Linked DNA regions of Homo sapiens. The protein of the gene in region 1 interacts with the protein of each later gene in a pairwise test. Each region holds a gene or a part of one and is shown in the gene's direction. Other genes may lie near its edges.

Region 1 (4,106 bases):
GCAACAGTTCAACAATGGCTTTAGGTCAATGTTAAATGTTACCTACTCACTTCTAAGGAAACAACCAAATGACCATTTGATTTTTTTTCTTTACATCCAGAAATGTTGGCATTGGTTAGAAACAAATATCCCACCCATCATCATCTTACCATTTCAATATGGGAGGGATGATCTTCACTTTATAAAATCATCCCTTTTTGGTATATTGCATCCACACTGCATTCTCCCTAGAAATGGGATGAATTTTATTTTCATTAAAATATTATAGACAACTTTAATTTGGTTCTCCCAAGAAGCCAAGAAATATAACTGTCCTAGCAGACCCAGGAGGAAGGCTGTGCAGCAGCCAGAGGCTTTGCATCAGAGTATACCCGGAGACCAATACCTACTTCATTTATGGTGGAGGTATACTTCACTTGCTAAGCACACTCACACAGGTGCACACACAGAGGATGTAGGAAGCACAGACATCAAAAGGAAGAAAATGGAGACTATTTGAAAAGATAAACTCGAAAGCTCAAAAAGTGTATATCTTGATTGAATTACTGTCCAGAGAAGAGGGGAGGTGTATGGCTCCGAATTGGTCTTAAAGATACATACCTTTTTACTCAAGTAAATGAAAAAGTATGCTAAAAGCAAGGAGCAGTCTTTGAGATGAGGAAGTTTTTGTGGAGAAGAGACAAATATGGTTGCTATCATGCTTTTGTAGGTAACAACAGTCCTTTAAAGTGTTCTGTCTGCAGACGTTTTCACAATGCAAAAGTCCACATTTTTTCCTATTCCATTTTTCAGGCTGCTAGAAAGTCACTGCTGAAAGTGTTGCAGATTCACATTAACAAAGGCACAGTAGGTACTGAAATTCAGAGTCATCACTGTCAGTAGCTAGGTGGCCTCTGAGAACATTTTTTTTTCATGGCACATATCTGTTCCCTCATCAGCTTAGAGGGCAAATTGATAACCTGAGGTGTTTATTGTTCCCTGACTTTCACAGCACTTTGATGGTCTTGAAGCCAAGAAAGATTAGGGGACATCTAAGTTAGTCTCTTGTGTGTGGGTTCTACCTCAAAGAGTGTGAAAAAATAGGAGACTTCATTTCATGGAGTATTTCACATTTGAATATGACATTAGGTTAACCTGAACATTTTGAGTTAATTTCTAAAAGTCTGTAAGTTCCAATTTCGTAATTCCAAAGAAGAGGCATGTATTTTTGCCGTTTCAGAAACAGATTTATCTAACTCTTACCATTTTTTGCATAGAATTATATTAAAAGCTAATTAAACAAGAGAAAAAAGTTTTTTCCATTAGGAATTAGAAAATATAATGATTTTATATTTATCATTTATGATACTTTTTTTTGTTCATTATTCTCCAAAACAATGGAAAATTATGGCAGGTTATTAGATCATACAATGCCAGGTACAAAGTCAGTGGTTGGTGAATTTTGTTGAAAGAACTAGGAATATAATTCTGAAACAATTTAAGATGCCTTGCCTTTAAAAAATCTACCTTAAGCATAGTGAATTTGGGTTTTGTTTTTTTTTTCTCTTTTGGAGGTGGAGTCTCACTCTGTCACCCAGGCTGGAGGGCAATGGCGCGATCTTGGCACACTGCAGCCTCCACCTCCAGCCTTGGCCTCCCAAAGTGCTAGGATTACAGGTGTGAGCCACTGCACCTGGCCAGTACATTTGTTAAAAGGCATATATTCCATTTACAAGCACTTCATATAATTTTTTAAAGTTACTTAAAATATGGGCCCAGCTGGGTGTGGTGAGAGTAGCAATGACCCAGGAGTTCAAAGACCTTGACTGTAGGCCAGGCACCAATAATAAATGGTCGGATGGCCTTGAGAAAGTGACAGCTCTGCTGGGTTTCAGTTTCCACATGAGTGACATGATTGATTTGGAGCAGGTTACTTCTAATATTCCATGCAGCTTCAAAATTCCACAACTGAATAATTCAGGTTAAGGAATTTGTACCTAAATTTAATAGACACTGATCCAGTACCAATATATGCCAGGTAATATTATAAGCACTTTACAAAGTATTTAATGATATAATAATTTTAATAAAGCATAGACCGCATATGGGGTAGCATTTCCTGCACTATGAAGTATAAACAAATGATAGTAGTTTTACTAACATTCAATATAAGTTATTTAAAAAAACAGAATAGAAATAAAATAATGCTTGGAATTGCAAGTAATATAGGAATGAAATTAGTTATTCCATTTAAACTGCCAAAAAAAATTATATGGTCAAAATAAGTGATTTAATCTTTATTTGACTTGAGAGAGTACACTAGATTACACATGCTTCACATCTGTCTCATTGTAAATGACTTGGCTGCCATAAACTTGAATGTTCTCACATATTAAATCACATAGGAGAAAATTTTTGTGAATCAAAGACTTTCTACCTGTATTACATCTTAATATAATACTCATATTATAAATGTTTCAAGTGCACAACTCATTTGGGAGAAACAAGCTGGAAACCATTATATGATCACAGTAGAGCTTCTAAATATCAGAGAGGCTTATTTCATGTGTACAGTGGGCACCTGGTTGCCTGAAGGTTGGAACAAAAGATAATACAGTGAAAGAGAGTTTGATTGGAAAGCTACTAATAGGTTTCAGTTTCTAGGCCTGGTTGAACAGTCCGACTCTCAAGCTAAAGGGCTGGAAATGAGTGGAAATTTGTCAAGCCAGGCAATTTCCACATCTTGACATGCTGCATGGGCCCTTGTTCCATTACTTTCACAACTGCTAGGACTTCAAGCATTTTCATCCCCTCCTCAACCTCCTTTACTCCTATTCCTCCTTAAGGTCAAGTTCAAGTACTAATTCCTCTGAGAAACTCTTCCTGAGTCAACATTTCTGGCTCCCCTCAAAGTTCCTCCACCTACACAAAGGGTTGGACAAAGATTCCATAAATGCTTCTAAAGCATCTGGTATAAATCTCTAAAATATTTACATTATTCAGCCTACCATATTGAATTACATTATTGGTCTATAGTCTTTCTCAGTGAACTGTGAGCTCCTTGAGAATAGGAACTATGTTAATTCTTTTTTGGATCCCCAGAGTCTTGACACAAATGACATGCATTGTTTGTTAAATCCATGAATGAATGGGTGGATGACAGTGGTAAGGCATTTACTATTAAAATAGTTGGCACCACTGGATCTCCATGCATTATAATTTGGTTGGGAACTGTGATGAGAATTGACTGTTCCAAGGAAGGCAATGGAGTAAGGGATGTATTTCTTGCACATTTGCAGAGTATCTTCATAATCAACAATTTGGTTTAGGTCATTCTCCCTGACTCCATACTGAGAATAGTAGAGAAATTGAGAGGAAATGAAACACATTAAAAAAAAAATCTATTCCGCCAGGATTGGTGGCTCACGCCTGTAATCCCAGCACTTTGGGAGGCCGAGGCGGGTGGATCATGAGGTCAGGAGTTTGAGATCAGCCTGACCAATATGGTGAAACTCCTTCTTTACTAAAAATACAAAAATTAGCCGGGCAAGGTGGCATGTGCCTGTAATCCCAGCTACTCAGGAGCCTGAGGCAGGAGAATCACTTGAACCTGGGAGGTGGAGCTTGCAGTGAGCCGAGATCGCGCCATTGCACTCCAGCGTGGGTGACAGAGCATGACTCCATCTCAAAAAAAAAAAAAAAAAAAAAAACCACAAAATCTATTCAACAGATATTTAGTGAACAGCTACTATCCAAGGTGCTCTGTGTCCTAGGCAGACCCAGATTCTACCCTCAAAAAAAATATACTTTGGATATTTAAGAAATTCACATAAAGGAAGAAAGCAATACATGACATAAAAGACTTCAATGTTTACCAAAATGAAAGAATATGTAATAAAGGGTATAGAATGGTCAGAGATGTCAGAAATAAATTTGCTGGATTCCCAAGAAGCTCTCACTGTGCGGGAGAGCTAGGTTAGATCACTATGGCTCACAACCTGCTCTCAGCTATAAAGGTCCTGGACCCAGAGATGGTCAAGTCCAAGGAGATTGGCATACATGCACACCAAGCTTACCAGGGATTGAAAAACCAAAAGGCCAATGACTAGATGAACTGGATAATTAAT
Region 2 (4,106 bases), on another chromosome or scaffold:
GTGAATCCGCAGCCCATGCTGCTAAAATATTGCTGCATTCTATACCTCTCCATATTGCCAAGTTTAGAAGTTAATAATTTAATCTTTTTTTTTTTTTTTTAAAGAGATGGGGTCTTGCTATGTTGCCTGTGCTGGTGTGCAATGGCATGATTATAGCACACTGCAGCCTTGAACTGGGCTCAAACAATCCTCCCACCTCAGGCACCTGACCAGCTGGGACTACAGGCACACACCACTGTCCCCAGCTTAATCATTCTTTTTAAATTACATTTTTATTAACTTTCTTTCCTGAATACAGTGAAAGGAAAAAGTGAATCAGGAATAAATATTTGTAATAGTTAGTACATAGTTGGATATTTTCAGAGAAATTTTGTATTGTAAGATTACAGTTAATTTTATGTATTTTTTGAAAAGCTAAACATGTAATTTAGAAATATCAACTTTAATCAGAGATAAGTTGCCAGGGCTTACATGTGAGCACAAGGTAGGCGTTCGTTGGTGAATATCTTTAAGATCAAAGGATGCCAGGAGCGGTGGCTCGTGCCTGTCATCCTAGCACTTTAGGAGGCCAATGCAGTAGGATCACTTGAGGCCAGGAGTTCAAGACCAGACTGGACAACATAGTGAGACTCCATCTCTACAAAAAAAATTTTTTTAAGTCACAAGGATGGGTTTTCCAGTGTAATACTTTAAGATGTAAGTTGGGGTTCTAATGAAATGATGTGATCTAATGGAATATAATTAACTCAAAGAAGATTTGGAAAAAGCTTTTAATGAAGTAGCATTGAAATTTATTTCACTGTTTCTTGGTCCTTCTGATTGGCCCTACGATTTATTTTGTTTAATATTTAGTGGTATGACCCACAGTGAAATTAAACTTGAAGTGTCTCTAGTACTAAAAGAAGATAATAGTGGATGAGCGTGTGACTTATCCATGGAAGAGAAGAAAAGTGAAGAGTTCTTTTGTTTTTTAAGAGACAGACTTAGTATTGTTGCCTAGGCTGGTCTCCAGAGCTCAGGCGATCCTTCCCACCTCAGCCTCCCAAGTAGCTGGGACTATAGGTGTGAGATTTTTAGAAATCCTTCATGTAATAAAAATATTTAAGAAGGGAAAATAGAACTCCTAAATGTTTTTGGCATGTCATTCCCTTCATTTAGTAATTGGGTTTGCATGCTTTTCTTGACAAAGGAATTTCTGTACCGCAGAGAGCTTTTTCACTGTGACTATGCTGTGTTTAGCAAAGAAGAGTTTGCCTAATTGATTTCAAACTGATTTCCATACACAGAACATATAACGTTTTAGTAGATATATCTGATAGTTCAGTAATTAATTCACCTAGTTGTATTAGCTCATACTCATACACCACACACGCTGGCCAAAACCCATTGCAGCAAATGTGGGCAACAAAAAAAATCAGCTTTCAACTGGGGAGAGCCACCTTGCAAAAGTGATTGTTCCTGGTAAGTCCTCTCAAGAATTGAAAGATATCATGCCTTGCCTCTGAACAATGCAAGGAAAGAGGCTTGCTGCTGAACATAGACAGTAAAGTCTAAACATTTTATAGCCTTAGATAATGGTTTCTTTGGGAAAGACCTTAAAATAGGAGTTACTGGGGAATGTTTATTAATAATCACGTAGTGCTGAGAAGGAGGATGTCTTAAAAACCAGACTTGTGTCCTGATTCTCCCATCTGTCAGCTCAGCAAGCTTAACACAAGTTATATAGCTTTACTGAATCTTAAGTTTCCCCATCTACACATAGGCTTTGGTAATACTTACTTCACGGGTTGTTGTGAGGAATAAGTGAAGTAATACACGTAAATACACATGTCATAAAGCATATCCTCAATAAATATTGGTTGATTCCAAATTTCATATTGTGGCATTGTTTAGATCACCTACCCTAAAATAAAACTTGATCTGCTTATCTAGCGGATGTTAGTGAAATGACTTCAGCTGATAAAAGGAAAATGCATTTCCTGTGTGTTTATCATTCAAGGTGAAACAGGAGAGAAGTATATAATAGTTTGTTTAAAATACTATCGATAGCTGGCCGACACAGTGGCTCACACCTGTAATCCCAGCACTTTGGGAGGCCAAGGCTGGTGGATCACTTGAGGTCAGGAGTTTGAGACCAGCCTGGCCAACGTGGCGAAACCCCACCTCTACTAAAAATACAAAAATTAGCCAGGCTTGAATGGTGCACGCCTGTAGTCCCAGCTACTCGGGAGGCTGAGGTGTGAGAATGGCCTGAACCCAAGAGGTGGAAGCTGCAGTAAGCCGAGATCGTGCCACTGCACTCCAGCCTGGGTGACAGAGCGAGGCTTGGTCTCAAAAAAAAAAAAAAAAAAAAAGGTCCCAGCTACTTGGGAGGCTGAGGTGTGAGAATTGCTTGAACCCAAGAGGTGGAAGCTGCAGTGAGCTGAGATTGCGCCACTGCACTCCAGCTTGGGTGACAGAGCAAGGCTTGGTCTCAAAAAAAAAAAAAGTCCCAGCTACCCCGGGGACTGAGGCAGGAGAATCGCTTGAACCCAGGAGGTGGAGGCTGCAGTGAGCCGAGATTGCGCTACTGCACTCCAGCCTGGGCGACAGAGCGAGACTCCATCTCAAAAACTAAATAAATTAAAATACTACTGATAGGAACTTAACCCTTGAAAATTCCAGATGTTCACATTTTCACAAAGGGAAGGAGGGCAAATTCTGTGAACTTTACTATGCTAGATAAGGAAGCCTAACTCCAATCCTACGTGAGATTTCTGTCTTGAGTCGTTAACAATACTCTTTCTGAGTACTTAAATGCAGTGAAGCCTCCTGGGATACCACAGGGATTGGCCAACAACTACAGGCACAACTCATTTCCTTTTAAAATGGATTTACAACCCTGGGAGACTAGGAAAATTCAGATATTATAATGGGATTTCAGCAGGCTGTTCCTCTAAAGAGCTAAACAATTTTATTCAGAAGTTGCTAGTTAATGGGAAGGGGCAGCCTCTGGCAGCTTTGTCCTCACCTCTGTTCTCTTTTGTTAGTAACTTAGATGGAAATACTGATTACATGCTGATCCTAAATTCAGGAAGTTGAGACAGTAAATCTGTAGTGTGTCAGAATCCACATCCAGAAAATCTTCATAGGCAAGAATGTAATAAGATGAAACTCAATTACAGGTATATTAAGGCCTATGCTTGGGCCTCTGAATCCAACTGTACAGGTGGGAGCTTAGCACAATCAAGTGTGAAAAAGAACTTGGTGTTTTAGGGAGTTACTCTCATGTGATATTCAGAAAATTTGTAAAGCCAATGCAGGCTGGGTGCGGTGGCTCATGCCTGTAATCACAGCATGTTGGGAGGCTAAAGCAGGAGGATCACTTGAGGCCAAGAGTTCAAGACCAGCCTAGGCAATATGGTGAGACCTTGTTTCTAACAAAAACAAAAAACCTCAGTACAACTTCAGGTTGCATTAATTGAAATTCGTTAGCCAGAATATGAGAACTGAGATCCCATTATGTTCTGACCAGGGTGACTTTACCTCATTTTAATATATGTCCATCAAACTGGAGCATGTGTAAAGAGGAAGACAAAAGGGAAATAGGTAGCTAGGAAACATGCTAGTCAGAGGAATGGCTTAAAGATCTGCATGTCTATTCTAGAGAACACAGTATTTGGAGGCTGTTTTCAGGTATTGGAGCACTTATTTAGAAGGGAGAGCACATTATCTCAAAAGGTAGATTTAAGGCCGGGCGTGGTGGCTCACGCCTGTAATACCAACACTTTGGGAGGCTAGGGCTGGGTGTATCACTTGAGGTCAGGAATTAGAGACCAGCCTGGCCAACATAGTGAAACCCCGTCTCTACTAAAAATACAAAAATCACCCGCGTATGGTCGTGGGCACCTGTAATCCCAGCTACCAGGTGGCTGAGGTGGGAGGATCACATGAGCCTAGGAAGGGGAGGCTTCAGTGAGCTGAGATTGCACCACTGCACTCCACCCTGGGCAATAGAGTGAGACTCCATATCACACACACGCACACATACACATACACACACACACACAAAAGTAAGACTAGTAGATAAGTGACTTTCAGTATCTTGGTAAGTCTCTTAAGCATTT
Region 3 (4,106 bases), on another chromosome or scaffold:
GTTCTGGTCTGTAAAATGGAGACGATAAAACCTCCCACACAAGGGTGTTAGGAGGATAAAGTAAGATTATTCAAGATAAGTGCTCAGGAGAGTGTCTAGCTCTTGAGTTACTAAAATACACCATTTGTTGTTACTGTTGCTCTCCCAGCATGTGGAATGCCCTTCATATATTGGCACATATTTTAGTACTGTTGCATGTTTCAGGTTGTCAGTGTTTAGCAAGGACAGTCTGTCATCTATCTTTAAGAATGCCCAATTCTTCTTCTGAATGGTGAGTTACATTGTTGATCACCACCTAGATGTTGGGCCCATCATATGCCTATGCCATTTAATCTTCACAGCTCTATGAGGAAGACAGGGTGGGGAGGATGGGAGACACTGACTCAAGAGTTATTCACCTGTGGCCATACCACACAGGTTAGAATTGTTTAAACTTCAATACGGTATGATTTCCCTTATGTATTATTTCTCTCTCAGGTAGAAAAATCTGCTAATAATATTTACGGCCTCATAGGTTTTAGGGATTACCTAAGGCAGTGCTTCTCAGTATTTTTTAAAATTTATTTTTAAAAGGAGCCTTTTCACATTTTTCTTAATCTCTGCCCCCTTCCATGAAATTTTAATATTGTAGATATCCTCTGCAACTGTTTTACATATAAAAGAGAAAGATTTTCTCAAAGCTTCCCACCCAAGAGCCAGTGTTTGCTCCCTTGGGGGAGAATCTCCCCTATGGAGAATGCATAGTCTAGAGGTCTTTATAAGAGAGGCCTTCCCTTACAGTAGCCATAAGGGTGAGCACAGGAATCCATACAGATACCATGGAAAGACATAAAGAGGCATTCTCTGCTTCACGTAAATATGGCATCAGCATAGAACATACACTAATGTTCCCATAGAGGCAAGATTAAACACATAAGTTTACTCAAGAGAGTCCAAAGAACTATTTAAACATTTAAAGATTTCCCACTGAAGTCTTCTGCAAGAGTGGGTGTGAGAGCCACCCAGAGGTAATAACTTTCTTTTAAAGAGCGGTTCCATTTATGCTGGAAACAGTCTTGTCGTGTAGGTCCATGAAGGTTTACATAACTCAAAACTTAATATTAAGAACATGCTGTAATTCTGATTAATATTTTTAGCTAATCAATTTATACTTACACACGAGTCTGATTGCAGTTAATCCCAGCATGTTCAGTTATTGACATAGGATCCTTTAATTCCAAAATGTCGGGACACATTTAATAAGATGAGTGGGTTGCTTTTTTGTTTTTATAGGTTTTACAGGAAAAGTATATTCAAACCCAGTATATTCAAAAGCCATACTGTGGATGGCTTTTTTGGCCCATGGCCTTGGGATCCACATGTCTGAAACTGAACTCATTTTTTCTCCCTTCTGTTTCCCTTTTCTGCTTTTTTTTTTTTTTTTTTTTTTTAGGTTAATTGTGTTCATCTGCAGATGAGTTTTGTAATCATTTTGTTTTGTTTTGTTTTGTTTTGTTTTGTTTTGTTTTGTGTTTTCTGTCCTTTCCTTCCCTGTCCCTTACCACTTCCCTTCTGCCCCCAAGAAATAAGAACCTTTGCTGGTTCTTCCTACTTTGTTTCTGGTGTCTAGCTTTTTGTCAGCCTTCCTGTGTCTCTGCTGTCTATTGAGCAATGTTAACTGTGTGCCTGGTCTTGTGCAGTAGCCCCTTGTTATTCTTCTGCTTCTGTTTTTCTCATCTTTCAATCCAACCCTCATATGCCAGCAGGTGCATAGTCTTAGAACAGCTCTTTCACCTTGCCACTGCAGGTTATCAGGAACCTAGATTCCCATTGTGGACAACATTTGTCTAGAATTAAAAGCTCATTACAATTTGGCCCAGCCTACCACTTTAGCCTCACTTCTGTTCTCTTATGGCATCACTTCCAGTTTAGTAAAAATGCTTTGTGCTTTGTTTTCCTACTTCTGAACACTTGTCATTTAAGCTGTACCCCATTTTTACCCTCTGTCTCCTCCATAATGCCTCTTTTTTTTTTTTTAACCTTTTAGCCCTTAAAACTCACTACCCTTATCTGGGCCATTCCTATAATACAGATCCCTTAATATGACAGTTTTCCTCTTCTTCCTGAATATGGGTGTTTTAAGAGGACTTGCCTGTCTTACATCTTTAGTATACCTCATAGCTTTAGCACCATGGCTTGTACTTTAAAAATATTGATTGATAATGATTCTAGTCTTTTCTGTGAATTTTTCACTGTTTTATTTCCATCTCTCACTGGTTTGACCAAGACGTTATTCCTCAGTTTGATTCAGCAAACTATGTAGTTCCTGCTGTGTCCAAAGTGCTAAGGAGTACAGAGATAAATACATCTTATCCTCTGCCTTCAAATGGCCCCCATTCAATGAGGGAGCCTGACTGAGGGAGCTGTCTCAGACCCAGTGCTGAGAAACAGCATCATGTAGCTCATCCCCGCTGGTTCAGAAATGCAAGGCAGGGAATATGTGGAGATGTTGTGGGAAGGGAAGGCAGAGAGCAGGTGATGGAAGGATTCATTTGCAAAGCTGAGAGTTTATGGTTCATTTTCTAGTGAAGAAGAGAGAGTGAAGAACTTTGAACAGATAAGACATGATCTCACCTGAGAGGCCTTAAACATTGGAAATAGCATAAGCTTTGAAATCAGAGCTGAGTTTGAATTCCATCTCTAAAACCTGTGACTTTGGGAAAGTCACCAAGGTTTCCTGAGCCTCACATTCCCTATTTATGAAATATCAGGTAGGCGAATCTCACCTTGCAGGGTGGTTGTGAGGGCTAGAGAGTTGTTGGGAGACAGTTTTCTATGGGTCTTTCACGTTTTTGCACACCTTGCTAGCAAAGGCACTGGCTGCCTTTGTTCTGGACTTTTTTTATACAGTAACTAGCTTTGGAAGGCAGAGATGATGTTACCCTCTGGAGCAAAGGACAAATTTGTGTATTCTTGAGTATAGTAAAGGTAGTGTCTCCTTTCAGGGCTGAAGTCAGACATGTCTTCTGCCCCTTGTAAGAGAATAGTGTTCCCTGAGCTTGGGGTTCCTCGGCTGTGATGCAACGCCTCTGCCTGCACAACATCCATGTGAGCCCCTCCATGTCATGGCTATGGGACTTGCGGGGCAAGAGAAACAAACACATGCTTTCTGCTCATAAGGTTCTTTGTTTCTGAGTCTTCTTCATGGGAGTGAAGATTTCACAGGAGTCCGTGTCTTCTGTCAGCACCTATGAACCTGTGGCCAACTAACTTTGTTAGCTTGTAAGTAGGGTAAAATCTCAGACCCTTCACGGTTCTTAACAAGCATTTAGGTCATATGAAATGCAGGGTAAATATTTGATAAATGTTATAATAATAACCATTATTCTTTATCAGTGATCATTTAGGCATTGTGGAAGATGATGAGTTAGACATACCAGTTAAGAGGCCATAGTCCAAGATGATGAAAACATAAAAACAGATATTGTCAGTGGGAACCGAATAGAGAGAAGAGAGAACTGAGAGAAACTAATGAGACATTGACAATATTGGGGGATTAACTGGATAGGAAGAAAGAGAATCAAGGATGACTTCAAGATTTATGGTTTTGGAAAGAAACAGTAGCCATCAGTGAAGACACGATACATGAAGAGGGGAAGATGAAGTTTGTAAGAGAGGGTGACAAGCTTGGGGGAGAGGGGCAGCCAGGTGGTAAAGTGAGTAGGCAAGGAGTCTAGAGCTTAGGGGACGCTATTGATGGAGAGAGAGGTTTGGGAGTTAAGAAAATCTAGATGATCATTAAATCATAGGAATGGATGAGTCTGCACTGGGGTTTTCACCGTGCTCAAAGGGTTCTGAAAATGTTCTGTTTGAATTGCTAATAGAGCTGGTTTCTATCCCCAGCTCCACCATCACCCCGTCCATTAACCAGAACAAAGACATCAGGCCTCCAGCATAGCTGCTTGGATTAGAGCCAAGTGTGAGGATAGATCCCCTCCCACTGGGCCTTAACCCTGCTTCCAGGTGCTGAGTTTGACAAGGTTTACTTTGAGAAGACAGTTCCTTTGCTGAAAGCAGGACTGAGGAGAGACTGAGGAGTGGAAAGAGAAAGGGGCTAAAGGCTGAAC
Region 4 (4,106 bases), on another chromosome or scaffold:
TCTTGTATCCAGAATACAGAGTCCCTGAAACAGGACCATCTGAACTACAAGAAAGAAAAATCAAAGACTGGAAGGTGTGTGAGGAGCTGTTGCTGGGAGTGCTCTAGCTGTAATGACCCAGAAGCTGAGGATAGGACTGGCCTCCCAAATCCATTGATCCAGAATGGAGATACTCTGGATGTGCAGAAAGCCCTGCACAGCGTGCTCCAAATTTATGATAAGAAAATAGGAAACGTCTGTTCTCTGGCTTCTCCCCTAAGCTTAGAATTTTGGAGAGGATGGTAGTGGAGGGAAATAAATTGGGAAGGGAACTAACATGTATTGTTGGCCTCTGTCTGCTAGGCACTTCACATGTGGTAAACCTTCTCAGCCACCCTGTGATGGAAGAATTATTTTACAGATAAGGAATCTGAGGCTCAGATAAATTTCCAGTTGTGTATCTGATTTCAGACTTTGGTGGTTATGATTTAAAGGGGCAACATGTCCCTATTCCCCTGCTCCAGGTCTCTTATTTATTTCTCTTAACCTGTCTGAACCTCAGTTTCCTTACCTACAAGATGGGAATAATCTTTCCCATCTCACATAGACGTTGTAAAGATTAAAGTGGGACACGTCAGCATGGAACCACGAAGGACTAAAACTGGAGTATGACACCAGGAACTCCAGGCCCCTAACCAAACATACAAATCTCTGGATCTCTTCCTGCTGGATCTTTCAGCCCCTCCACCTTGGCAAAATCTGGTACACAGTTGGTGGGGATTGGGGGGAAGGTGGAAGCCCACCAGTGGGCAACCCAGTCACCCACAGTGCATACTTATGTGCCAAGTAGATAGATCCGAAATACCCTGTGTCAGATGGACAGACTGTACCCTTTCATCTTGGAGTCCCCACCACCCAACTGTTGCTTAATAAATGAGAGTTGAGTGACTAAATGATGGCACTGATGGAGTGAATGGCAGTGGGGAGGGGGCTGTAGATCATTGTTAAGGGAGACCCAGCAAGGAGAGATCCAGAGATTTGTACGTTTGGTTGGGGGCCTGAAGTTCCTGGTGTCATATTCCAGTTTTAGCCCTTGGTAGCTCCATGCTGACAAGCCCCAGTTTAATCTTTACAAAATCCATGGGAGATGGGCAAGATTATTCCCATCTTGTAGGTGAGGAAACTAAGGCTCAGAAAGGTTAAGCAACTAACTCAAAGTCCACGAGGGACCAAAGGCTGGGTGAGGTATTTTTAACTAGAAACTGTCTCAAATAAACAAACACTCTATAGGAAAATGAGGAGGGAACTTGCTATGCAAATGTATCGTTAAAGCAAGCCCCGTAGCCCCCTTCCAACCAGGTGGTAGTCTTCAAACTCCTAGAAATTCTGGAGCCACCGAGGGAGCTGGGCTTTGAATCTATGTATGAGGAGCTCCTCAATGCTGCCTCCCTGAACAGAATATGAGGGAGACCTCAGAGAATGAGGGGGAAAGATGGCTAATTGCACTCTTCCCACACACAAAAGCCTGCGTGGGATTCTGAATTAAGCTTGATTTGGGGATCAGGGTGACATCCTTGCTGTAGAGTTGGCAGCTCTTGTCTTTGGAGAATGCCTCTGATTACCACTTCTCCCTCCCACCTGATCGTCTGCCCGGGTGCCCATCATCTCATTCTTTCCAGACTCAAAGCCTTTCCTTCATGGCTCACAATGTTGATGAGCCTCTTGAGTCTGCCACTTCACTGTCCTCTGATGGCAGCTGGTGAGAAGCTGATTTTGGCGGCCAGGTTAGTACTTCTGGAGTTCACACATGACCCTCCTCTCTCCTGCCAAGAACACACACACGAACACACATGCACACACAGACACAGGCACACATAATTTGATCACGTTTCTGTATCTGCTTCACCAAATTAGATTCAAACCCAGAATTGTTATTGGAAGAAGTATGTGACTTTGGTGTTCTCTCCCAGCCCCTGCCCTGAACAGACCAGAACAGCTAAGATGGAGGCAGCTTAGCCAGCAGATGTCTTGAGCCATGATCATACTTGCTGGCCTTCCCACTGCTGTGGGGCAGCACCGCAAAACATGGGCATGGTCTGCCTTCATCCGTCTGGGCTGCTATAACAAAATCCCATAGGCTGGGTGACTTATAAATGATAGAAACATATTTCTCACCGTTCTGGAGGATGGGAAGTCAAAGATCAAGATACCGGCAGATTCAGTGTCTGGTGAGGGCTTTTTTCCTGGTTCAGAGATGGCATCTTCTTGCTGTGCCCTCACATGGTAGAAGGGGCAAGTGACCTCTCTGGGGCTTCTTTTACAAGGGCACTCATCCCATTCATGAAGGCTCCACTCTCACGACCTAATCACCAACCAAATGCCCCACCTCTTAATACCATCACGTTGGGGATTAGGATTTCAACACAGGAGTTTGGAGGGGACAGACACATTCAGACTATGCATGGTCCCAGGGCCTTTCATAAAAGCCCATTTTAATCTCTACTGAGACATAGGGCTGGGCTCCTTGAACATCCCAATCCTTGTAATTCCAATTTCTGCTGTAATTAGCTCCAACAACTCAGTAATTCTAGAGAACTTTGGAGCACACTCTGCTCACACCTGTCACTCCTCTTCCCACAACTTTTTGGTCTTCCAGCACAGCACTGTCTAATAAAACTTTCTATGATGATGGAAATGTCACATGTTTGCACTGTCCCACACACTAGCCACTAGCCACATGCAGCCATAGAGTGCTTGAAAAGTGGTTGGTCCAAATTAGGATGTGCATTAAATATAACAGATGCATGGGATTTCTGTGACTTAATACAAAAAAAGAATCCAAAATAGCTCATTAATAAGCTTTGCATTGATTACATGGTAAAATGATAATATTTTGAATATATTAGTTAAATATGATAGAGTATTAAAATTAGTGGCTTCTTTTATTTTTTTAAATGTGACTACAAAAAAAATTTAAATTACATAAACATTTCTATTAGACAGAGCTGCTCTGGAGCAAACTAACCAACCTCGTGACTTCAGCCTCCAGATGTTCTGGGGACATAAACGCTCTCCATCTCGATGGCAGGTGGGAGGCAGGGGGCTGAGTCAGTAGCCACAGCAGCCTGGCATCAAGCGATTTTGATTTTCAGTAGCTCAGGTGCCATGATGGAGGTTCCCCGTGGAAACTAGCCATGAGCATGTTGGCTCAGTCTCATGCTCTATGAGGAATGTGGGACCCAGAAACCCAATAGAATGGGCACAGGCAGGACTGGCTTGAATGAAATGGCTCTTTCCTTTCCTCGACCCCACCCACCCCACAGGCCGGTGTCCTTGTCCATCGGAGAATTCCTTGACACCTGCTCTAGTAGCAGCTTAAAGTACTATCCATCCCAGGGATTTGTGCTTGGAGAGTAATGTCGCCAGTAGACACCCTCATGCTGACAGTGGGTTATTTAGGGCCAGGGCCAGCCTTAAAGGAGAGAAAATAAAAAAGAGAATGCACACTGTCATTTCCTGACAGCTTGATGAGAACAAGAGCAAGGACATAAATAAAATTTCTGCGAGGGAGACAGAATAAATGCAAGGAAGGTCAATTTCACACAACCATAGCACAGCAGATGAAGAAACCTGGCCAAAGGAGAGTTCAGGGAGGTAGAAGAAGGATTTTGGCTGGCACTATGGTATCATCACATCACATCATTTCTGGGTCCTTCCCTAGGCACTGGTCATGGCATAAATAGACGGAAAGGGATGGGATAATGAACTTGGGACTGCAGTGATTTACAGGTCAGGCGCCTGTGGCTCTGGCTCCTGAGGGGGCTGCCCTCACAGGGGACCCTTGGCTGACCCCCTTGGGCTCCTCAGAAGGAGTTGGTTTTGTTTCACATGGCAGAAGCAGACTGTTTACTGGAGCACAGGAAGAATCCGACATTCTGGCGAAAAATAATTCATTAACAGCCAGGGTATTACCAGTTCCCTGGAAAAGCTCCTCCAGCTGCACTGTAGCAACTGTTCTTTTTCAGCAGCAGAATCGGGCCGTGCTGGCAGCCAAGACTGGGTGTGTTTGGGCGTTTTTATTGTTGTTGTTATTTTTGCCTTTGTGTGTATGGCCACTTTTCCCTTAT
Region 5 (4,106 bases), on another chromosome or scaffold:
ACCACGCCCGGCTAATTTTGTATTTTTAGTAGAGATGGGGTTTCTCCATGTTGGTCAGTCTGGTGTCAAACTCCCGACCTCAGGTGATCCGCCCACCTTGATCTCCCGAAGTGCTGGGATTACAGGCGTGAGCCACCGTGCCTGGCCTTTCTACCTGTTCTTAACTCGTCTTAAGTTCCTTGGCTTCTTGGTCCCACCCTTTCTTTCTGGCTCCCTTCCTTTTCTCCTTTCTCCTCTCCTCAGAACTTGATAACCTTCCCCAAGCTAAATAGCAAGGATAGACAGAACATGATTGTGAAGTGAGCAGTACATTTCAGTTTCAAAAACTTCTTCATGCTGTAATACAGGGGCTTGTTTGTTCAGTTACAAAAATTACAGATAAGGAATTTGGCATGTATTTGCAGCTGGATATTTCCATGGTTAAGATAATTTCGATACTTTTTAAGGTCTTTAGACATGTACTGTTAGTCACTTGCTGAGGAGGCAGAAGCTGTATTATAAGGATGAAGCACAAAGTGTGAACAATTTGTTCTGTTCAATCCTACATAAGAAAAAAATGAGAAGAGTTTTCATTGGTCCGTTACTTACATCTTAGAAAGGATTTCTGAAATAAAAATGTATTTCTTTTTTTTTTTTTTTTTGATATGGAGTCCCACTCTGTCACCCAGGCTGGAGTGCAGTGGCACGATCTTGGCTCACTGGAACCTCTGCCTCCTGGGTTCAAGTGATTCTCCTGCCTCAGCCTCCTGAGTAGCTGGGATTACAGGCATCTGCCACCATACCTGGTTAATTTTTGTATTTTTGGTAGAGACAGGTTTTCGCCATGTTGGCCAGGCTGGTCTTGAACACCTGACCTCAGGCGATCCGCCACACTTGGCCTCCCAAAGTGCTGAGATTACAGGTATGAGCTGCTGCGCCCTGACTAAAAATGTATTTCTTGGCCTGGCATGGTGGCTCACGCCTATAATCCCAGCACTTTGGGAGGCTGAGGTGGGTGGATCACTTGAGCTCAGGAGTTTGAGATCAGCTTGGACAATGTGGTGAAAACCTTTCTCTACAAAAAATACAAAAAAATTAGCCAGACGTGGTGGCACATGCCTGTAACCCCAGCTACTTGGAATGCTGAGGTGGGCGGATTGCTTGAGCTTGGGAGGCGGAGGTTGCAGTGAGCCAAGATCAGGCCACTGCATTCCAGCCTGGGCGATAGAGTGAGACCCTTCCACAAAACAAAACAAAACAAACAAACACAATATATATGTATATTTCTCGAATATTAACTTTATTCAGGGAGCTGTTATAAAAAGGGCTAGATGGCCCAACAGATAGTTCCACAAAAGAACAACTGTTTTGCAGAGCAAAAATTACAATTAGCTAATTGCCTACCATCTTCTCTCACACTGTAGAACATACTGTAAATCCACGAATTTCCGCTTCCATTTTGTGAACTGGACATTTATCTAAGGATGTATATAAACAGTATTGGGTGCCGTGTGAGGGGCTGTACATGTTTCCTCTTCTGATCTGATCTTACAACACCCCCAGGACACTATGGCCACATCCAATTTTTTAGCTGAGGAGGTGGAGAGATTAAGCTATCTAACCAAGGTCACATAGTAAGTGAGTGGCAGAGCCATGTTGGAATCAGTTCTGTCTGACTCCAGGACCTGGGCCCTAGATTAGAGCTTCTTAAATGGGTGGAAACCTTTTAGACTGTGACCACAGTTAGAAATACCCTTTACAGTGAGATCCCATATACACACATGTGCACACACATACACACACACAACATAGATTTTCACTGAGCAATACTCTTATGACATGCTCTGCATGCTGACTTTTTCTCTCTATCCTATTTCATTTTTTAAAATGCTGATTGTGATGTACTAGATTGATTTTACAACCCACTGATGTGTCATGACCCACAGTTTGCCTCACTTTTAGCATTCAAACATGGTGACACCTTGGCTGTCTCCTCCAAACTCATGAACAGCCCAGAACTGGATTTAGTTGAATCTGTAATTCCAGTAGAAAGTTTGGCCTTTCCCCAGGGGAGACCAATCTGGGTTGGGGTCATTGTTCTTTGTGATACTGGATTTACTTTCTTTTGCCATGGTATGAAAAGTATTAATATGGAGAATACATTTGAGAAAAGGTATTCCATGAAGACAAATTCAGACACATAACTTTTTGTGTTCATTCATAACTAGTGTCTTGACACTGTTTGAAATCAATGTTAAGAAAAATCATGTGACAAGGTTGATCTATTACAGGAAAAACTGGTGATTTGGTTCATGTTTTAGAGAAGAAAGATGTAATTTCCATATCACTCATAAAAAAGAGGCATTATCAATTTTTTATTAAAAGATCATGCACCTCAGACTAAACCCCACTAAATGCTGGTTCGGGTCTTCTTTCCTTGAAAATGTTTCGTTTCAAAAAAGTGGCTTCACAAAGAATAGGTTTGTTTCCTTGTATCCCAAGCAAGTCCACGGAGACATCTTTCATTAGATGTCAGGGAGCAGTGTTACAATGGGTGGGGATAGGATTTTATAAAGAACATGGGCAGATGAAATGAAAACTTGCTGTGTTAGAGGTGGGATATACTTGTGTGACTGAACCGCTCCTTTCTCCTCCTTCTCCCTTTACTCATTTTCTAATTTCTGCATACCCACTGGGATCACAGCTACTTTTATGACCTCCAATGGGAGAATGTATTTCAATTTAAGTCAGTGAGAAGGTACTTTACGGAAAGTACTTTCTTCTCCCTCACCCCCAAACAAATGAAATTAGATTTTTAAAGTGGGTCCCTGGGAGAAAACGTTGCTGGGGAATCTTTCTGAGTATGAGTCCACCATTTTGAAGCCTTCTATTGATGGTGCCTTGTGTTATCTGCTTTCTATTTCTTTGAAAACATTTTCTGTGTGTTCTCAATGGCTGCTGATTTCCGAACAAGCCTCTCCTACCCTGTTGGCCTCTGTTTTGTCTCTTCTGAAGAAAATATCCTGCAAAATGGAGAAACACATCAACCTTGACTGTGATCCAAGTTATTAAAACAAGGAAGAAGTTATTCTCTGGGGACTCGGGTAGGGGGAGTGGGAAATCGAACACAATAGAAATGTGAAAGGAGTGCTCAGCAAAATGAATGTCCCTTTGCTGGTCCAAGAAGTTCACAGGCTGTTGGGAACACACAGTATTCAACCTGTGGATGCTTGAGAGGAAAAACAAAAAAGACTCAACAATGAGTGATGTGTGGTGAAAACAAAGCTGTGCGTTTTGGTAGGGCCAAGGCTGTCGAATCTGGAGAAAATCCCCGCTAGACATGGTCTCATCCCTGAGAACCTGTGCCAAAAGAGATAGCTGTCTTCTCTGGCTGGGAGCTCCAATACACAGCCCAGCACCTTCCCTCGCGGGCTCGTGAACATAAGGTATCCGTCCAAGAGATTTACTTCTTGGAAATAGATAGCTTGCTTTTAAGTGGCTCCCGGAGCCTGAGATGCAAAGTGAAGGTGGGGAGCCTCAGTTCTGTGAATATCAGCATTGCCGAGCCTACTCCATCTCCACCCCCAGCAACAAGTTATTAATTTTCCACCGTTTAAAGTTTCATTTAATGCCATTTAAAGAGTTTTTTTTCTTTATTATTGCCTTGCATTGGACTTGGCCTGAGGTCTGTTAACCCTGCCAACCAGAACGAAGAATGGGACTCCAGGGTTTGATAAAGATGGAGACTCGTGACTTAGCTCTGTGTCCCTCTCACTTAGTGTGGACTGATTCGGAAGCTTCTTTCCTTTGCTTCTCACTTTTCTGCTTCTTCTTTCTCCTCCCTGGCTGTTGGCCTTTTCTATCCTTTTATTTTTGGACATGCATTTGATGAATGTATTGAATTTTTTTATTATGTAAGTAATGTGTATAAATTATAGAACAGTTAGAAAATACAACTACGCAGAGAAGGAAATTAAAACTCCCCCCAAAAGCCTAGATGAAACTATGATGATAATGATGTTGCACAAAATTTTAGACCCTTTCCTGTCCATGCATGTACATTTGTGTCATTTTCTTTCTTACAAAAATGATTGGCTTCAGGTGAGATTCAATTCAGCAAATGCATA
Region 6 (4,653 bases), on another chromosome or scaffold:
CTTCCTCAGAAGGCAGCATCACCCAGGTGAAACTAACACCATTCAGGATCTAGTTTTAGCTTTTTTTACTTTAATTTTTATTTTTGCGACAGGGTCTCATTCTGTTGCCCAGGCTGGAGTGCAGTGTTATGAACACGCCTCACTGCATCCTCGGCCTCTAGGCTCAAGCAGTCCTCCCACCTCAGCCTCCCGAGTAGCTGGGACTATAGGTATGTGCCACTATGCCCAGCAATTTTTTTTTTTTTTTGAGACGGAGTCTCGCTCTGTCACCCAGGGTGAAGTGCAGTGGTGCGATCTCAGCTCACTGCAAGCTCCGCCTCCCGGGTTCATGCCATTCTCCTGCCTCAGCCTCCTGATTAGCTGGGACTACAGGCGCCCGCCACCATGCCCAGCTAATTTTTTGTGTATTTTTAGTAGAGACGGGGTTTCACTGTGTTAGCCAGGATGGTCTCGATCTCCTGACCTCGCGATCTGCCCGCCTCAGCCTCCCAAAGTGCTGGGATTACAGGCGTGAGCCACCGCGCCCGGCCATGCCCAGCAATTTTTAAATTTTTTGTAGAGACAGTTTTGCCATGTTGCCCAGGCTGGCCTCGAACTCTTGGGGCTCAAGCGATCCTTCTGTCTCTGCCTCCCAAAGTACTGGGATTAGAGGCATGACCTACCGTGCCCAGCCTGGTCTTTAGCTTTTCAATTCCAAAAATTCAATCCTGTCTGGCCCCAAAGTTCACAGGATTATATGTGGGCAGAAACCTACCCAGGTGCCGAGGCAAGAGACTGAAGGCACAAACTGTTCCAGTATAATACAGAAAATAGTTAGAATAAGAAAAGTTATACTAGAAATAGGATATAGAGATGATTATATATGGATATTACCAATCATTAGTTTTTAGTACTAATTTCTGTATTATTATTATAACTGAGAAAAAAACCAGCCAATATAGAGTCAAGAGCTGAAGGGACATTGTGAGAAGTGACCAGAAGACAAGAGTTGGGTGCCAGATGTAGGGTCCAGCCCTACTGGGCCTTGTGGGTTTTCTCTTCGTATGCAGAGACGAGAGATTATAGAAAAATAAGACACAAGACTAAGAGAAAGTAGGAAAGACAGCTGGGCCCAAGGGGCCACTACCACCAATGCGTGGAGTCCGGTAGTGGCCCCAAATGCCTGGATGCGCTGCTATTTATTGTATACAAGGCAAGGGGGCAGGGTAAGGAGTGTGAGTCATCTCAAAAGATTGATAAAGTCAAGCAAGTCACGTGTCCACGTGATGGGGGCCTTTCCCTTTGTGGTAGCTGAAGCAGAGAGGGAGGACAGCATATGTCAGCGTTTTTTCTGTGCACTTATCAGAGAAATCAAAGACTTTAATACTTTCACTAATTCACTACTGCTATCTTCCAAGAACTTAAAAGAAGAACCAGGTATACAGGCGGAACATGAAAGTGGACAAGGAGCGTGACCACTGAAGCACAGCATCACAGGGAGACGTTGAAGCCTCCAGATGATTGTGGGCAGGCCTGGCTAATGTCAGGCCTCCCACAAGAGCTGGTGGAGCAGTGTTCTCGAACTCCCCCAAGGAGAGTTCCCTTTCCCAGTCTGCTAAGTAACAGTTGCCTTCCCAGGCACTGGCGCTACCGCAAGACTGAGGTCTGCTAAGTAACGGGTGCCTTACCAGGCACTGGCGCTACTGCTAGACCAAGGTGTCATCAGGCAGCCCTTATCAGGGCGTGACAGAGGACTTTCACTCTTGTCTTCTGCTCACTTCTCACAATGTGCCTTCAGCTCCTGACTCTGTACTGGCTGTTTTTTTTCTCGGTTATAATGATAATACAGAGATTAGTATTAAAAACTAATGATTGGTAATATTCATATATAGCTGGGCACGGTGGCTCACTCCTGTAATCCCAGCACTTTGGGAGGCCAAGGTGGGCGGATCACGAGGTCAGGAGATCGAGACCATCCTGACTAACATGGTGAAACCCCGTCTCTACTAAAAATACACAAAAAATTAGCCAGGCGTGGTGGCGGGCGCCTGTAGTCCAGCTACTCGGGAGGCTGAGGCAGAAGAATGGCATGAACCTGGGAGGCGGAGCTTCCAGTGAGCCGAGATCGTGCCACTGCACTCCAGCCTGGGCGACAGAGTAAGACTCCATCTCAAAAATAAAAAAAATCCATATATAATCATCTCTATATCCTATTTCTAGTATAACTTTTCTTATTCTGTTTTCTTTATTATACTGGAACAGTTTGTGCCTTCAGTCTCTTGCCCTGGCACCTGGGTAGGTTTCCACCCACAATTATGGATAGGTGTTCTCACACTACCTAATTCACAGTATACCAATGGATAAACCACAAAGGCCATTATATCTTGTGAAAAAGCATATGTCTCTTATCCTGGAATCTTGCATTGCCTGGAAGCCTGCACTCTTTCTTTGTGAGACAAGCCAAGGCATCACCAGAAGGTTGCTGGTAGTGACAGAGAGTTGATTATAGAATATTAGGGCTGGTGGGCCGGGCATGGTGGCTCATGCCTCTAATCCCAGCACTTTGGGAGGCCAAGGCAGGTGGATCACGAGGTCAAGAGATCAAGACCATCTTGGCTAACACGGTGAAACCCCATCTCTACTAAAAATATAAAAAATTAGCCAGGCGTGGTGGTGGGCGCCTGTAAGTCCCAGCTACTCAGGAGGCTGAGGCAGGAGAATGGTGTGAACCCAGGAGGCGGAGCTTGCAGTGAGCCGAGATCACGCCACTGCACTCCAGCCTGGGCGACAGAGTGAGACTCTGTCTCAAAAAAAAAAAAAAAGTTTGTTTCAGGTAAAGTGGGGTTGATAACAGGAGCTAACTGGAGATGCCCTACCTATGAATGTTTATTGAGGCACAGAGCAAGCACTCAGTCAGTATTAGCTGCTGCTAGTAAATAATATTGCTAGGGATTATCGAGGTCAGCTGTGTCCAAGTTCTCGGACATAAGTACCACATCTGAGAACTGTAGTCTTACACAGGCACTTTGAGGAAGGGGGTGATATTTTCCACTGTCAGATGAGAAGCCAATTAAGGAACTGTGTAACTCTGAACACATCTGATGGCTTTTCCCAGCCCTCTTTCTCCTTCAGCCAATGAGAGTTGCACTAGGTGACCTCTGAAGCCTTCTTGTTTGGCACTATGACTGGATGGAAGGAGAGGAATCAGTGAGGCTCAGGGGAATCCTCTTCCTCGTCAGAATGGCCCAGGGATTACGCCCCCGCCTTTTGTCATGTACGGGTACAAGGGGAGCAGAGGGAAGATGGAAGTCAGGCCAGCCTCAGGCCCATTGGCATGGGTACCACTGCCTGGAGGAGCCGCCTGCCCAGCTATACAGCCAGGTCCAGGCCCTCCTGAAGGGCAGAAACTTTGGACCTGAGTCACATGGAATGCTGATGTTGTCACTAAGGCTACCCATCATTCCCCTCTCTGTAGATGACCTGGATGGACTCCTGAGTGAGCTTCCTGAAGACTTCTTCTGTGGGACCAGTAGTTGAGACTGCCCCAACGCAGGACAACCCACCATGAGCAGGCAGCTCTGGGCATGTGTCTGGTCACATCCAAGGGGGAGAAGAAGGCCAGCATGATTGGAGAGTGGACACAGCCGGGGGGCTTCTGTGGTTGCTCCCACCCTGGGTGTTTTCCCTGAGAGCCCCCTCATCTCTGCGCTGCCCTCACTTTGGGCCTTCCTTTGCCGTTGGCACCAGAATCCGGCCGGAGACTGGCTCTCCAGCCAACAAGAAAGGCCTGTCACCCTCGCCTTGGGTGTCCCTCTCCTGCCTCAGCTTAATTTTAGAGGATATTGGGCCTGGTTTTCTTGTCCCTTCATACCCTAGTCCCTGGACAGCTGAGGAGATGAAAGGAGCCACACCACAACAATGGCGGCCTGCCCCTCCACACAGGGGAGAAGCACGCTCAGGCTTCCTCTGCTTTGTCTCTTCAGACCTGTGGTTGCTCTGCTCATCCATGCCCAAGGTTCCCAGGTGCAGGACAGAGGTGTGGCCTATTGTACCTTGTTCTGAAATAAAGCATCTCCTGCTTCTTCTGCCTCCCTTTCTTTTCCACCCCCTGCTGCTCCTGCCTAACTGCCCTGCCAGTGCTGTGTGGCCACAAAAGGGCTCAGGCAACTCTTTTTCTCTTTTTTTTTCTTTTTTATATACTTTTAGACTTCTAAAATTTTTTTTTTGAGACGGAGTCTCGCTCTGTCACCCAGGCTGGAGTACAGTGGCGCTATCTCGGCTCACTGCAAGCTCCGTCTCCCGGGTTCATGCCTTTCTTCTGCCTCAGCCTCCCAAGTAGCTGGGACTACAGGCTCCTGCCACCACGCCCGGCTGATTTTTTTTTTTTTTTTTTTTTTTTAGTAGAGACGGGGTTTCACCGTGTTAGCCAGGATATTCTCAATCTCCTGACCTCATGATCCACCCCGCTTGGCCTCCCAAAGTGCTGGGATTACAGGCGTGAGCCACCATGCCCGGCCTTAGACTTCTAAATTTATAGATTTATTTATTGCAAAGATAGTACAGAGAGTTCCCACATACCCCACACCCAGTTTCCCAGTTAATATTATTTTATTTATTTATTTTTGAGCTGGAGTCTCGCTGTCGCCCAGGCTGGCGCAATCTCCGCTCACTGCA
Region 7 (4,106 bases), on another chromosome or scaffold:
TTTCTGTAAGCATTATGAAACTGTTTCCTTGCCAGTGTGGTAATAAGTGAAGAAATGAAGACAGCCTTCTTGCTGAGTGCCAGTTTACTTTCTTTTTTTTTTTTTTTTTGAGACAGAGTTTTGCTCTTGTTGCCCAGGCTGGAGTGTAGTGGTGCAGTCTCGGCCTTGCCGCAACCTCCACCTCCCGGGTTCAAGCTATTCTCCTGCCTCAGCCCCCGGAGTAGCTGGGATTACAGGCATGCGCCACCATGCCCAGCTAATTTTTTGTATTTTTAGTAGAGACGGGGTTTCTCCATGTTGGTCAGGCTGGTCTCGAACTCCCGACCTCAGGTGATCCGCCCGCCTCGGCCTCCCAAAGCATTGGGATTATAGGCATGAGCCACCGTGTCTGGCCATTTTACTTTCTTAATAAGCCCTTGCCATGTAGAATCTGGCTTTACCTAAATCTATGCAAACCGTGAGGTGCATCTTGAAAGCAGCAGTTAGGGTCAAACAGGTAGGGTCCAGGATCATCTGAAACAGTCTTGGATAATGAGGTTGGAGGATATGTGTTTTCTTTATATACCTATCCTCGTAGAATCTCCTTTGCTTGAGGTGATGTGAAATGGAGTTAAGGAAAGCAAAGCAAGAGAATGTGGCTGAGTTAGCTGGGGTTCTGCATCCCCTGAGTTTTCCTTTTTTTTTTTTTTTGAGACGGAGTCTCACTCTGTCGCCCAGACTGGAATGCAGTGGCACGATCTCCGCTCACTGCTAGCCCCGCCTCCCGGGTTCACGCCATTCTCCTGCCTCAGCCTCCCGAGCAGCTGGGACTACAGGCGCCCGCCACCAAGCCTGGCTAATTTTTTGTATTTTTAGTAGAGATGGGGTTTCACCATGTTAGCCAGGATGGTCTCTATCTCCTGACTTCGTGATCCACCTGCCTTGGCCTCCCAAAGTGCTGGGATTACAAGCATGAGCCATCGTGCCTGGCTTTTTTTTTTTTAGAGACAAGCTCTCGCTCTGTCACTTAGGCTGGCATGCAGTGGTGCAAACATAACTGACTGAAACCTTGAACTCCTTGGCTTAAGAGATCCTTGAACTCTTGAACCACTGTGCCTGGTTTATCTTTTTCTTTTTTTTTTTGAGATGGAGTCTCACTGTGTCTCCCAGGCTGGAGTGCAGTGGTGCAATCTTGGCTCACTGCAAGCCCCGCCTCCCAGGTTCACACCGTTCTCCTGCCTCAGCCTCCTGAGTAGCTGGGACTACAGGCTCCCGCCACCACGCCTGGTTAATTTTTTGTATTTTTAGTAGAGACAGGGTTTCACCATGTTAGCCAGGATGGTCTTGATCTCCTGACCTCGTGATCCACCCGCCTCAGCATCCCAAAGTGCTGGGATTACAGGCGTGAGCCACCGTGCCTGGCCTTTTTCTTTTTTTGAGACAGAGGCTCACTCTGTAGCCCAGGGTGGAGAGCAGTGGTGCCATCATAGCACACCGCAGCCTCAACCTTGGCTTAAGCAATCCTTCCAACTCAGCCTCTCAGCTAGGACTGCAGGTGTGTGCCACCACATTGGGCTAATTTTTAAATTTTTTGTAGAGATGGGGTCTTGCTATGTTGCCCAGGCTGGTCGCAAACTCGTGGACTCAAGTGATCCTCTTGCTTTGGCTTCCCAAAGTGTTGAGACAACCGGCATGAGCCACCAAGTCCAGCGCTGAAACTTTGCTTTCTAATTGTTACTACTAGTGCCATGTTTGACACTAACTGTTGCTAACTGAAGTAATAGGTAAAAGTTTAGTTTTTAAGTTCTAACTTTATTTATTTGTTTTTTGAGACAGAGTCTCACTCTGCTGCCCAGGCTGGAGTGCAGTGGCGTGATTTCAGCTCACTGCAACCTCTGCCTCCCGGGTTCAAATGATTCTCATGCCTTAGCCTCCCAAGTAGCTGGGATTACAGGCGTGTGGCACCACACCTGGCTAATGTTTGTATTTCTAGTAAAGATGGGGCTTCACCATGTTGGCCAGGCTGGTCTCGAACTTCTGGCCTCATGTGATCTGCCTGCCTTGGCCTCCCAAAGTGCTGGGATTACAGGGAGCCACCATGCCTGGCCTTAAATTGTAACTAAGGTAAGGGTCACTGTCCGTAAGCAGGATTTAAGGGTAACTGGTAGGAGTGAACCTAGCCTGTTTCTGTGACTGTTCTGTTTACATTGCTGCCATTTCACATGGTTTAGATTGACTCCCAGGTTTTAGGTGGTCAGGTTTGGAGAGAATGACATCTCATTTATACAGTGAGGTTGACAGACTATGGGCGTGAAGTGGTTGCTTTCAAAATTTGGTCTCTGATTTATTAACTTACATTTTCTTCTTTCTGAGGCATTGTTTAACCTTGAATTTATTTAGCCTGCTATAAAAAGCTGGTGATTGTACTTACCAAGAAATAATTTTTTCTAAGTTTAAAAAAAATTACTCAGATAATATTACAGGTCTGCAGACAGGTACTTTAGTATAGTTATATCAGAATCTTAGAGGGTGAGGCCTGAGCATAGGAATTCCGTAAAAGCTCATCTGTGTGATTCCTATGAACTGGCAAGATTGAGAATCATTGTAATAAGATAAAAGTGGGGCCAGACCCCATGGCTCATGCTTATAATCCCAGCACTTTGGGAGGCTGAGGTGGGAAGATCACCTGAGCCTGGAGGATCGCCTGAGCCCAGGAGTTTGAGACCAGCCTGGGCAACATAGTGAGACCCCCGTCTGCACAAAAAAATTTAAAAATTAGGTCGGGCCTGATGGCTCACGCCTGTAATCCCAGCACTTTGGGAGGCTGAGGCTGGTGGATCGCTTGAGCTCAGGAGTTTGAGACCCATCTGGGCAACATGGCAAAACCCCGTCTATATCAAAAATATAAATTAAGCCAAGAATGGTGTATATGCCTGGAGTCCCAGCTACTTGGGGGGCTGAGGCAGGAGGATTGCTTGAACCCAGGAGTTGGAGGCTGCAGTAAGCCGAGATCATGCCACTGCACTCCAGCCTGGGTGACAAAAGTAAGATCCTGTCTCAAAATAAATTTAAAAATTAGCTGGGTGTGGTGGTGCACACCTGCAGTCCTAGCTGGGAGGCTGAGTTGGAAAGATGCTAAGCTGAGGTTGAGGCTGCAGTGTGCTATGATGGCACCACTGCTTTCCACCCTGGGGGAATAAAACATGCTGGGCATGGTGGCTCATGCCTGTAATCCCAGTACTTTGGGAGGCCGAGGTGAGTGGATCACTTGAGGTCAGGAGGTCGAGACCAGCCTGGCCAATGTGGCGAAACTCCATCTCTACTAAAAATACAGAATTAGCCAGGCGTGGTGGCTCATGCCTGTAATCCTAGCTACTTGGGAGGCCAAGGCAGGAGAATTGCTGGAACCCGGGAGGTAGAGGTTGCAGTGAGCCGAGATTGCGCCACTGCACTCCAGCCTGGGCAATAGAGTGAGACTGTTAAAAACAAAAAAAAGATAAACCAGGCATGGTGGTTCATGCCTTTAATCCTAACAGTTTGGAAGGCCGAGGCAGGATTGCTTGAGTCCAGGAGTTGGAAACCAATCAGGGTAACAAAGTGAGACCCCAACTCTACAAAAAAAAAAAAAAAAATTGGCTGGGAGTGTTGGCTCATGCCTATAATACCAGCACTTTGGGAGGCCGAGCAGATGGATCACTTGAGCTCTGGAGTTTAAGACCAGCCTGGGCAACAAAGGCAAACCTCGTCTCTACAAAAAACACAAAAATCAGCTGGACATGGTGGTGAGTGCCTGTAGTCTCAGCTGCTCAGGAGGCTGAAGTGGGAGGGTGGCTTGAGCCTGAGAGGTGGAGGTTGTAGTGAACGAGATTGTGCCACTGCACTCTAGCCTGGGTGACAGAGCAAAACCTTGTCTCTAAATAAATAAAGTGCATAAGTAATTATTATGTTGTTAGAGTATAAATAAATCGGTGTAACGGTTCTAGAAAGCAACCTAGGGATGTGTAAATGGCTTTAATGACCATATTTTATCTGTCAGTTCCACTTTTTGAGAATTTGACATAATCACCTAAGCCTCTGTGTAAAGAGACTCCCAATGGTATTATATTAAACTAACAAAAAATTAGAAG

Evidence for each region.
Region 2: the proteins of TRIM55 (region 1) and LAPTM4A interact in a two-hybrid assay, tested with the Homo sapiens proteins (one large-scale study listed by BioGRID).
Region 3: the proteins of TRIM55 (region 1) and MPZL1 interact in a two-hybrid assay, tested with the Homo sapiens proteins (one large-scale study listed by BioGRID).
Region 4: the proteins of TRIM55 (region 1) and RAI2 interact in a two-hybrid assay, tested with the Homo sapiens proteins (one large-scale study listed by BioGRID and IntAct).
Region 5: the proteins of TRIM55 (region 1) and WT1 interact in a two-hybrid assay, tested with the Homo sapiens proteins (one large-scale study listed by BioGRID and IntAct).
Region 6: the proteins of TRIM55 (region 1) and HROB interact in a two-hybrid assay, tested with the Homo sapiens proteins (one large-scale study listed by BioGRID and IntAct).
Region 7: the proteins of TRIM55 (region 1) and RNF10 interact in a two-hybrid assay, tested with the Homo sapiens proteins (one large-scale study listed by BioGRID and IntAct).

Annotation. Positions count from the first base shown.
Region 1 is NC_000008.11:66,144,129-66,148,234, forward strand, and holds part of TRIM55 (tripartite motif-containing protein 55), read left to right. Parts: intron 1-4,106. UniProt on the Homo sapiens protein: E3 ubiquitin ligase that plays an important role in regulating cardiac development and contractility, muscle growth, metabolism, and fiber-type differentiation.
Region 2 is NC_000002.12:20,041,460-20,045,565, reverse strand, and holds part of LAPTM4A (lysosomal-associated transmembrane protein 4A), read left to right. Parts: intron 1-4,106. UniProt on the Homo sapiens protein: May function in the transport of nucleosides and/or nucleoside derivatives between the cytosol and the lumen of an intracellular membrane-bound compartment.
Region 3 is NC_000001.11:167,766,386-167,770,491, forward strand, and holds part of MPZL1 (myelin protein zero-like protein 1 isoform a precursor), read left to right. Parts: intron 1-4,106. UniProt on the Homo sapiens protein: Cell surface receptor, which is involved in signal transduction processes. Recruits PTPN11/SHP-2 to the cell membrane and is a putative substrate of PTPN11/SHP-2.
Region 4 is NC_000023.11:17,854,587-17,858,692, reverse strand, and holds part of RAI2 (retinoic acid-induced protein 2), read left to right. Parts: intron 1-4,106.
Region 5 is NC_000011.10:32,411,408-32,415,513, reverse strand, and holds part of WT1 (Wilms tumor protein), read left to right. Parts: intron 1-4,106. UniProt on the Homo sapiens protein: Transcription factor that plays an important role in cellular development and cell survival. Recognizes and binds to the DNA sequence 5'-GCG(T/G)GGGCG-3'. Regulates the expression of numerous target genes, including EPO.
Region 6 is NC_000017.11:44,158,417-44,163,069, forward strand, and holds the end of HROB (homologous recombination OB-fold protein), read left to right. Parts: intron 1-3,454; coding exon 3,455-3,516; 3' UTR 3,517-4,060; downstream 4,061-4,653. UniProt on the Homo sapiens protein: DNA-binding protein involved in homologous recombination that acts by recruiting the MCM8-MCM9 helicase complex to sites of DNA damage to promote DNA repair synthesis.
Region 7 is NC_000012.12:120,540,763-120,544,868, forward strand, and holds part of RNF10 (E3 ubiquitin-protein ligase RNF10), read left to right. Parts: intron 1-4,106. UniProt on the Homo sapiens protein: E3 ubiquitin-protein ligase that catalyzes monoubiquitination of 40S ribosomal proteins RPS2/us5 and RPS3/us3 in response to ribosome stalling.